Regions from separate parts of the Homo sapiens genome. Here region 1 is linked to region 2. The links come from fine-mapping of genetic effects on gene expression. A gene starts in region 2. The other region holds a variant in brackets. All regions are shown on one strand. Distances are from middle to middle. Region 1 overlaps TRPM6 (transient receptor potential cation channel subfamily M member 6). Region 2 holds the start of TRPM6 (transient receptor potential cation channel subfamily M member 6).

What was found. PIP is the estimated chance that this variant, and not a neighbour inherited with it, causes the effect.
Region 1: its variant is fine-mapped to the expression of TRPM6 in whole blood (INTERVAL, PIP above 0.99).

What each region holds. Positions count from the first base shown.
Region 1 is chr9:74,864,242-74,869,622 of GRCh38, forward strand. All of the region lies in intron 1 of TRPM6 (transient receptor potential cation channel subfamily M member 6), which reads right to left. Among named protein-coding and RNA genes, the nearest start is that of TRPM6, 21 kb to the right of the region's middle. The variant A/G (reference allele first, on the strand shown) is at 2,080.
Region 2 is chr9:74,885,089-74,890,469 of GRCh38, forward strand. TRPM6 (transient receptor potential cation channel subfamily M member 6) reads right to left here and starts at 2,833. Exons shown (of 39, transcript NM_017662.5): 1 at 2,736-2,833. The coding sequence starts at 2,768. RefSeq lists an enhancer at 1,925-2,219.

The DNA of each region.
Region 1 (5,381 bases), 21 kb before region 2:
TGTTATTTTTTCTTCAGAGTGCCTCCCTTGAAGCAAGAATCCCTTCAAAGTGCCAGGTAGATGGACATCAGGATGTACCATCAATCAATCTGTTGGCTCAGGGAATCCATCAGTGCAAAGCCAGCCCATCCACTTTCAAGTGTCAGCTCAGGGCCTTCTATCTGTCCAAATTCTGCAAGGATACCTACCTGACACTTGATCCGAGAGGGGCAGTCTCAGAAAAACAGCATCCAGGCTAAAAATATCTAAAAACCAAGTTCCTGTTCCACCAACACTACCAGAAAGTGTGTTGACTGATTTTCCACTAAATAGTCTGTCCAGGAGGCAGAGAACACAAAGTAACCTTACACCTTCATCTCACTTTGGTGGTAAAAGGTGAGCACTATTTAGCTGGTAGTAATTTATTTTTGGTAACATCTCTAAAAATTGAATGTCAACTAAATAATTCACAATTCCCTAAAACGCCATTTCTCCTGAGTAGTTGAGAAATTTTACTAACATTTTCACATAGTGCTTTGCTAAGCAAAGGCATTTAGAACCTTGGAATGAGGCCTGGTGCAGTGGCTCATGCCTGAATCCCTGTACTTTGGGAGGCTGAGGTGGGTGGATCACCTGAGGTCAGGAGTTCGAGACCAGCCTGGCCAACATGATGAAACCCTGTCTCTACTAAAAATACAAAAAATTAGCCACGCGCAGTCGTGGGCGCCTGTAATCCCAGCTACTCAGGAGGCTGAGGCAAGAGAATCGCTTGAACCCAGGAGGTGGAAGTTGCAGTGGGCTGAGATCGTGCCACTGCACTCCAGCCTGGGCAATGAGAGAGAAATTCCCTCTCAAAAAAAAAAAAAAAATGGAACGTCAGAATGAATTTCTAGATTATATAAACTCAAGAGTTAAGGAGTAAAACATTTATAAATCTTCCTGGAGCCAAATAGGGGATTAGAGGAACTCAACAGTAACCTTCCAAGTAAAGTGCATCAGAAAGGTGAAAAGTGAAGTGATATCATACCCCTTCCTTCCTCTTTCCAAATTGGTTGAAGCCCTCATTATTTCAGCCCCAAAACCCAATTTCAAAATAGCAGCGAAAGACATCCTTTTCCTCAGTTGTCACTCACGCTTCAGGGTTTAACCAGTCTCCTGGGGAATAAAACATGCAAATGAAACATTTATAATTTCAGATCTTGTTAAATCATTCTGATAAAAAGGGAAGAGGAAATGGAAGTCTCCTTTATGAGTGTACTTTACAACTGTCCCTCGATAGTAAAATACAGAGATTTAACCAAATGCTGGGCCTATTTGTAGTACAACCACTCTAATCTGGTTAGATTTTCCACCTACATGCACTCAATTCTCTCCAATTTCCAAGCTCCAAAATGCTCACAAATTTGTTATCTATGTACACAGATGGTCTTCATTTATGCTCCAAATATCTTGTTAAATTATCCAAAACTTTACTAGTACTACATGCAAATAAACTACATGACCTAAAATAAAGTCTTTTTTGGAGTGGCTCATGAAACTATGCTTTTATTTTTGTTTTAATACAGAGTCTTGCTATGTTGCCCAGGCTGAAGTGCAGTGGCTATTCACAGGCGTGATCACAGCACACTGTGGCCTTGAACTCCTAGGATCAAGTGATATTCCTGCCTCAGCCCCCTGAGAATCTGGGACTACAGATATGTACCACCATGACTGGGGAAAATATACTGTTAAATAATTGACTTTTAGGAAACTTACCAACCTCTCAGACAATAAAGCCTTTATTAGAAGTTACATGTTTGGCCAGGCATGGTGGCTCACGCCTAGAATCCCAGCACTTTGGGAGGCCATGGCTAGAGAATCATTGAGCCCAGGAGATCAAGGCCAGCCTGGGCAACATATCGAGACCCCGTGTCTACGTCCAATAATATAAAAAATAGAAACATTTTTAAAAAGAAGTTACAGGTTAAATTTTATTTATGACATTCATAGTAAGGTTTATATAGACAATGGAGATTATTTGTCTTATTTTTTTCAGTATAGCACAGCACAAAGAAGACACAACTGGATTTTGCTCCTTAAAATTTGGGGGACACTCATACC[A/G]CGTGTGTAACTTAGACAAATTCAAAAGCTTTGCTAAAAGAATGAGAGAAGGCTAGAAGGTGAAAAATAAGACAGAGAGAAAAACAGTTTTAATAGTGTGGGCAGTTTCACTGTCATTCCACTATCAGTAGGTTTGATTTTTTTGGGGGGGTTTTTTGTTTTTTGTTTTTTTGTTTTTGAGACAGAGTTTCACTCTTGTTGCCCAGGCTAGAGTGCAATGGCGTGATCTCGGCTCACTGCAACCTCAACCTCCCAGATTCAAGCGATTCTCCTGCCTCAGCCTCTTGAGTAGCTGGGATTACAGGCATGCCCCACCACACCCGGCTAATTTTGTATTTTCAGTAGAGACAGGGTTTTACCATGTTGGCCAGGCTGGTCTTGAACTCCTGACCTCAGGTGATACACCCACCTCAGTCTCCCAAAGTGCAGGGATTACAGGCGTGAGCCACCGCATCCAGCCTCAGGAGTATCTTATTTCCAAAAGCAGCAGTTCTGAAACTTCTTGAGCTTAGGATCCTTTCATAATCATAAAAACTACCAAGTACTCCAAAAAGTATTTTGTTTATTTAAATTATGTCTACCAATATTTACCACATATGAAATTAAAACTGAGACATTTAAAAATATTTACTTATTAGTTCATTTTAACCTGTTACATGCTAACACAAAAATTTTCCAAAAAAGTTCATAAACAGAGCACTGTCTTATGTTTTTGCAAATCTCTTTCATGTCTGGCTAAAGATGGCTAAATTCTCATGTTTGCTTCTGCACTCAATCCTTTGCAATAAGTGGTTTTGCTTGAAGTATACAAAGAAAATCTGCCTCACAGAGACATGTAGTTGAAAAGGGAGAGTATTTTAATGGCCTTTTTAGATCATTGTGTATTCATCATGTACCCTTGGGAAAACTCCACTGTACACTCATGAGAAAATATGTCAAAAGGGCAAATAGCATCTTAGTACCATTATGAAAATAATTTTGACTCTGAGGACCCTCTGAAAAGGTCTTAGAGACCTCTAGGAGTCCTTGGACCACATACAGAGAACTACTGCACACAAGTGACTGTGTGTAGACACTAGAGTGGAGTCTGTGAGAGCAAGAATATACCATTCCCCAGATGGTCTCAGTTCCCACATGCATATCTTAGTCTGCATACCTCATCTTAATGAGTAGATTCTAGATCCCCTGTTTAATCTGGTACTCAACTGAAGAAAGTTCCAACACAAGATAAAATCTTCATGTACTGTATTTTATGCTCAATGAAAGGGACTTTTCAAGGGTAGTTTGGAATGCATTCAATTTCTAAACTTACAGCCAACTTTAATGCCTACCACACCCACCCTCCAGAAGATGTCGTTAAATTCAGTGACCTTGGGAAGCTTGCGAAGTGTGGAACCAGCCCTTTACAATCCATAGGCAGGATACATCCTATCAGTTTATCCACCTCTTTTAAAACATTGAAACCTCGAAAGGAAGAAACAAATGAAAAGAAAAATTGATACCTCTAAGAATAATAGGTTTATTCATTCATTTAAAAAAAAATACTTTGATGGCCAGACGCAGTGGCTCACGCCTGTAATCCCAGCACTTTGGGAGGCCGATGCACAGGGTCACGTGAGGTCAGGAGTTCCAGACCAGCCTGGCCAACATGGCGAAACCCCAACTCTATTAAAAACAAAAAAAATTAGCTGGGCATGGTGGCACAGGCCTGTAATCCCAGCTACTCAGGAGGCTGAGGCAGGAGAATCACTTGAATCCGGGAGACAGAGGTTGCAGTAGGCTGAGATTGCACCCCTGTACTCCAGCCTGACAGAGCGAGACTCCGCAAAAAAAAAAAAAACTTTGACACCTCATGTTATTCTAATTAAAATAAATAAAACAAAAAAGTGTCCCGCCGGGTGTGGTGGCTCACGCCTGTAATCCCAACACTTAGGGAGGCCGAGGCAGGTGGATCACCTGAGGTCAGGAGTTTGAGACCAGCCTGGCCAACATGATGAAACCCCATCTCTACTGAAAATACAAAAATTAGCTGGGCATGGTGGTGCATGCCTGTAATCCCAGCTACTCGGGAGGCTGAGGCAGGAGAATCATTTGAACCCAGGAGGTGGAGGTTGCAGTGAGCTGAGATCATGCCACTGCACTCCAGCCTGGTCGACAGAGCGAGACTCCATCTCAAAAAATAAAATAAAATAAAATAAAATAAAAAGTGTCCCAAATGCCACCAGCAAATGAGAAGCACTTATGTTAACAAATGGATACTAAGTAAGGAAGTGGGTCATAAATGTTACAATCGTAGGCAACAGGACACTAGTGAAGGAGAAATTCCTTCTGCCTGTAGATACTTGAGATGTTTTCATGGAAGACATGGAATTTATGAAAGTTCTTGAAAGACAACAAAGGTTTTAAAAGGTGGCGAGGGTGTCCATGGTGGTTAGAAACGTGGAGATTTCAGCCTAGAGGAAAATTTAGAAGAGGTTCACTTTAAGGTGATGACAAAAGCCATGAGGTCACTGAAGGACAGATAATAGAGACGATCAAAGGGTCAAGAACTTTCAGAAACATCTAAACAAGGATGCAGAAGAAAGAGTTTGGGGGATAGAGAATAGAGACTTACTAGCCAGGATGGTGGTTTGATACCTGAATTAGGGAAGGGAGACAGTTTCTCAGTTTAGTAAAATGTTTGCATCATTATCAAAGTAGAAAATTTCAAAGAAAAACTGATAAGACATACTTAATACTAAAAAGAAGATAAGAAGAATGGCAATTTTGTCCACGATGAACAAATCAATTTCAAGAGATTCAGGAAAAAGGTTGTAAAACAGAGGAGATAGGTAGTTAGTGTAAGATTCTCTTGGGAGAAGCAATACTAAAAACAACAGTCAGGGCCGGCCTGTAATCCCAGCACTTTGGGAGGCCGAGGCAGGCAGATCACAAGGTCAGGAGATCGAGACCATCCTGACTAACATGGTGAAACCCCGTCACTACTAAAAATACAAAAAATTAGCCAGGCATGGTGGCACGCACCTGTAGTCCCAGCTACTCGGGAAGCTGAGGCAGGAGAATCACTTGAACCCAGGAGGCGGAGGTAACGCCACTGCACTCCAGCCTGGGCAACAGAGCGAGACTCCATCTCAAAAAAAAAAAAAAAAGAAACTGTCATAAATGGACGATATAAAGCAAAAGCCAACACTAAAGTAGTCTGTCGTATCTGCCAAAGGCTGGGAGGGCTAAATGTCTTAGGTGCTTTAGCTAAAGCAATATTCACAATTCTGTGGCTCATCACAGTACTATTTATTCCCTCT
Region 2 (5,381 bases):
AAGAACTTGTGGTTAAATTGGTGAAAACTTTGCAAACACAGAGAGACAACTCTGGAAAAAAACAAGGAAGAAAGCTTTTAATAGCATGTAGGGAGGCATAATAATGTTGACCTAACTAAATATTGACCTAACCAAAAATTATGAGATAACTATATTCAGAGGATCTATGGAAGGAATAGGTAGGATGCATGTAAGTGGTAGTGGCAGGAAAACAGAAAAGAGTTAAATCCACACATTTCTTGCAGGAAAGTCAATGCATGATGACTAAACCTCAAAAACCAAGAAGGAGCAATTATAAGGAATATCTAGAGATACAGACAAATAGTAACTAGTTAAAAGAGATGAACATGATTACTTCTCTTAAAAAGCAGGAAGTGATGGAGGGTTCTACTGTTTTTAGATATTAACCCTATGGAATTAATTGATTCTGAACAATGAGAACGTAAAACTTCAATAAAACTAAGAAGTAAAGAAAAAAGGCACTAGTGAGACTCACATCATAATATCTTACCTAACAGTGATGGATTTTACAGAAAATAGTTGCCATGTAGACTTCTGATGTGTCACAAAGGAATAACTGAGTTATAGGTAGGATGGTCACTTTCAGTTCCAGCATGGTATTGATTCTACCAGAAGTATAATGAAAATCACTCAGATTATTTGGGCTGTTTATACTGAAAACTCATGATTTAAAACACAGTGAGGCCAGGCACAGTGGCTCAGGCCTGTAATCTTGGCACTTTGGGAGGCCAAAGAGGATTGCTTGAGCCCAGGAGTTCAAGACCAGTCTGGGCAACACAGCGAGACTCTGTCTCAAAAAAATAAAATAAAATAAAAAGTGAGAAATTTGAAAAAGAAGGAAAAAGAGAGAAGCCATATTTCAGGCACAGTATTTACCAAATGCTTGATAGTTTTGGCATAGATGTCCTATCCAAAAAATTAACTATGATAGATAATTGTAAATAGGCAAGATAAGACCAAAATTTGTGACAAATTGCAACATATTGCACGATTCTTTCCCTTCACCTCTGGTATAATGATCTCAAATGCTATTCATGCCCTTGTCTATCAAGACAAGTTTAACACTACCAAAGGGTACTAGTCTCCAGTTTTGGCCCAAAAAACAAAACTCATGCTAACTCCTACCCTAGATGGTTACCACTCCTGGTGGGAAACATAAGAAACAACCAGATTCTTAAAGTCAAGCCCAGATTCCAGTCTGGCCAAAATAGCTAACGCTTTATCAGTCCTGTAAGAACCCAAAGCAGATGACAGTGAAACATCAAAATCTGTATACAGGGGGAAAGAAATTGAATAACTCGTTTCCCACTTTAACAATTAAAGGTGATCATTTCTCCCTAGAACAAATAATCACAAATGATGTGTATGACTAGAACATCTATGTTCTCAGTGTCTTTTTTTCTCTTTTTTTTTTTTCTTTTTTATGTTCTCCGTGTCTTAAAGCACTGACCTGAGTTCAAATCTCAAATCTGCTTTTCTCCTTTGGTTTCATTTTCCTCACCTGTAAACCGGTGGAGATGGGAGAGACAGGATACTTGGACTTTATAGGATTACTGCCAGGATGAAATAGTTAAGAATCCCAAACTCTTACAACCTGCTAAATACGTCAGGCATTATTCTAAGTGCAAATGGCATGTAGCATTTCAATTCATCTTGAAACTACAAATCGTATTATCCCATTTTCCAGATGAGAAAGCCGAAGAACAGATGTTAACTCGCCCAAAATCACAGGTAGTGATGCAGCTGGGATGCTAATTCAGGCTACCTGGCTCCAGAGCATATGTTCTTATCAGAGCAGGCTGAAATGAGCTAACGTTTGCTAAGCTGCCTGGACTATTCCTGAAATACAATGTGCTCAATTATACTTATTTTTCATACACAGTGTGAGAAAGTCCAGACAAAATAGGCGAGACCAAGAAATTACCAGGATCTCCACTACTCTCCCAAGCGTCTCCAGTGCTCTCCCAACAGCCAGGAGCACCCTCCCTCTCCAAGCCCCCAGAACTTCCTGTTGCGCCATATGCCAGCGGTGGAGAGGAGCCAGCGGGGACTCCTGAGGTTGCAAGTCCGGGCGGCGCCGCGTTGGGGAAGGAAGCGGACTGCGGCGGGGCGGGTGTTTACCGTAACCGGCGCTGTCATCGCTCCGGGACTCCTGCACGGGGAACACTGGGCGCACGGGGACGCGCAGGGGCGCGGAGGGACGGCCGTCTGGGCACTTCTCCAGCCGCCTCGGAAAGCCGCGACCCCCGGCTAGTCAGCGTCCGGGTCTGAGATCTGTGCCCGTGGCAGCTCAAAACGCGCCTTCTCTCCTCCGGATTCTCAGCTCAAGCCACCTCCGAACTCCTCTCCCTCCGGCCCGGAGCGGAATCAGAGCTGCCTCCTCTCCCGGGGTGTTTCCCACCGCCCCGAGCTGAACCCCCGACCCCCGCTAGGTTTCCGCTCTGACACCACCTCCGCTATGGCCGCATCCCAGCTCTTGAAACGGGGGCTGCGGGACCTGCCCTGTAGTAGCGTACACTACCTTAGATAGGATAATCATCTTTGGGTGGAGACCAGAGAACTTGAAAGCCGGTATTTCATAAATCCTAGCTATTCTAGATCCTCGTTAGATGTAGTGTCCCTGGCCCCACCCACTTCTATCTAAGGCCGGGGGCGCAGATCTAGCGAATCGCCTAAGGTCCTTGTTCCCCGCCAGTCGAGCAGCCTGAGCTTACCTGCAAGCGCTCCAAGACAGGTTGTTCTTTCATCTTTGATTTGCAGGCCCTGCTCCCAAAGCCCTGTCTGAGCTTTTAACTGTGGAGGCAGAAACTCTGGGCTCCACCTCCACACGCTGCCTTTTACAGCCCAGTGGATCTGTCACAATACCTTTCGGCTTCAGTTACCTAACTGCCTAGAAAAGAAGGTGACTCTCAGTTTCCTTCGATAAAAGAAGAATAACGAGGATCAAATGGGATGGCCACTGTCATCACAGACATCCTTTGTAGTAATGTATTGTTACTGTTGAGTCAGTGTGGGGCGTGAGGAGATCAGAGATTTAAGCTAACGCACTGCTTTTACTACCTGTGACTTATTGGGCATGTCAAGCCTCAGTTTATTTATCTATGCAATGGGAATAATAGGGACAAAAATCCAGTTCCCTCACAAGGTTACAATGAACAAAGGAAATCACTTAATGTGCTTCATGTGTAACATACAATACAAATGTTTTGTTATTTCTGGTTTTTTTTTCATTTTTTTTGTTTGTTTTGTTTTGTTTTGGTGGATTCCTCTGGATAGGCATCTTCTCTTTCTTTCTTTCTTTCTTTCTTTCTTTCTTTCTTTCTTTCTTTCTTTCTTTCTCTCTTTCTTTCTTTCTTCTTTTTTTAGAGATGGAGTCTTGCTCTGTTGCCCAGGCTGGAGTGCAGTGGCAGGATCATGGCTCACTGCATCCTTGACCTCCCAGGCTCAAGTGATCCTTCCACTTCAGGCTCCAGAGAGTAGTTGGGACTACAGGCACACACCACAGTGCCTGGCTAATTTTATTTATTTATTTATTTATTTATTTATTTATTTATTTATTTATTTTAGAAATGGGGTCTCACTATGTTGCCCAGGCTGGTCTCAAACTCTGGACTCAAGCGATCTTCATGCCTCAGCCTTCCAGAGTGCTAGGATTACAGGCGTGAGCCACCATGCCCGGCCTAGGCAGTCTTGATTAAGGTTGTGGTCAGTGATTTGGGGTGGATCCCAGGGTGTTGGCAGAGGTGGCACAAAGCACACAGGCAAAATGATGCTCACATTATTACAAGTGTAATTAACAATGCTAGTCATTCATCCCTGACAACCGACTTAAAATTAGGGACACCTACTCATTTAGTTTATTATGAATTTTTGCCTGGTGAATTCACATTTGCAGACAGTTTACAGGTTTTTTCCCCTCATTTCTCAATGTGGTTTTAATAAGCATTTCTTTGTTTATTGGAAAATTGTAATCTCTCATATGTGTATTGGCATTTTGTTGTTTTTCTTTTTGTTGTTGTTGCTGTTGTTGTTGAGCCAGGGTCTCGCTCTGTCACCGGGCTGGAGTGCAGTGGCACTATGTCGGCTCACTGCAACCTCCACCTCCTGGGCTCAAGCAATCCTCCAGCCTCAGCCCCCGCAAGTAGCTAGGACTACATGTGCAAGCCACTACACCTGGCTAATTTTTGTAATTTTTGTAGATACGGAGTTTCACCATGTTGCCCAGGCTGGTCTCGAACTTCTGAACTCAAGCAATCCACCCACTTCAGCCTCCCTAAGTGCTAGGCATTTGTTGTTCTTCTATAAACACATTTAATCTCCTTTCCTCTCCTTAACCCATCTTCTTTAAAGCGTTAATCTGTAAACAGTTAACAGGTTCTGAAAGCTCTTCTAAGGCAAGTAAATCCTTCTCGATCTCTGTCTTCCATACAATTTCTTTGTTAGGTCTCTTACAGTGACTGGGTCAGAGAGTTCTCAGAAATCTTCAGACCCACCAAGAAGAGTAGCCATTTGGAACTCAAGATTTGTAAGAAGTCTACCATCTTCTAGTTTACCATCTTTGGTAAACCTACATGTTAGGATGATCATATATTCTTTTCAGATCAAGCTTCAAGGCATTTAGAGCCTGAAATACAAGGGCAATGTGAAGTGCTTAAAGCATTGAATGTACTAGTTTACAAGCTGCCTTTGGTTCCCAAGCTGTATCAGAAACATCTGAGGCATTTGTCAAAAGTGCAGATTCCCAGGCTCCAACCACCCTACCCAGATCTCTTGTATCAGGATTTATAGGGTGGGGCCCAGGAATCTGTATCTTTCACAAGCACTTTAATCAGTTGTCAAACTTGTATATAAAACTTCTTGTCCAGGCATGGTGGCTCATGCCTGTAATCCCAGCATTTAGGGAGGCCGAGGCAGGAGAATCACTTGAACTCATGATTTCGAGACCAGCCTGGTCAACATGGCAAAACCCCATCTGTACAAAAAAAAAAAACAAAAATTAGCCACGCGTGGTGGCTTACACTTGTGGTGCCAGCTACTTGGATGGCTGAGGTGAGAGGATTGCTTGAGCCCAGGAGGTCGGGGCTGCAGTGAGCTATGATGGCACCACTGCACTCCAGACTGGGCAACAGAGTAAGACCATATCTCAAAAAATAAATAAATAAAAAGAAAACTATTCTGGGCACAAACATACCTATGCCCAGGGTAGCTGTGAAAATTAAATTTTAAAATATTCATTAGTAGTCTAGTGTGGTTTGATTCAGGCCAACAAATATTTCCTGAACATAGACTGTTTGTCAGGCATCATGCTGGGCACCAGGAAAACAAAGATGAATAAGACATTGTCCAGTCTACAAGTAGCT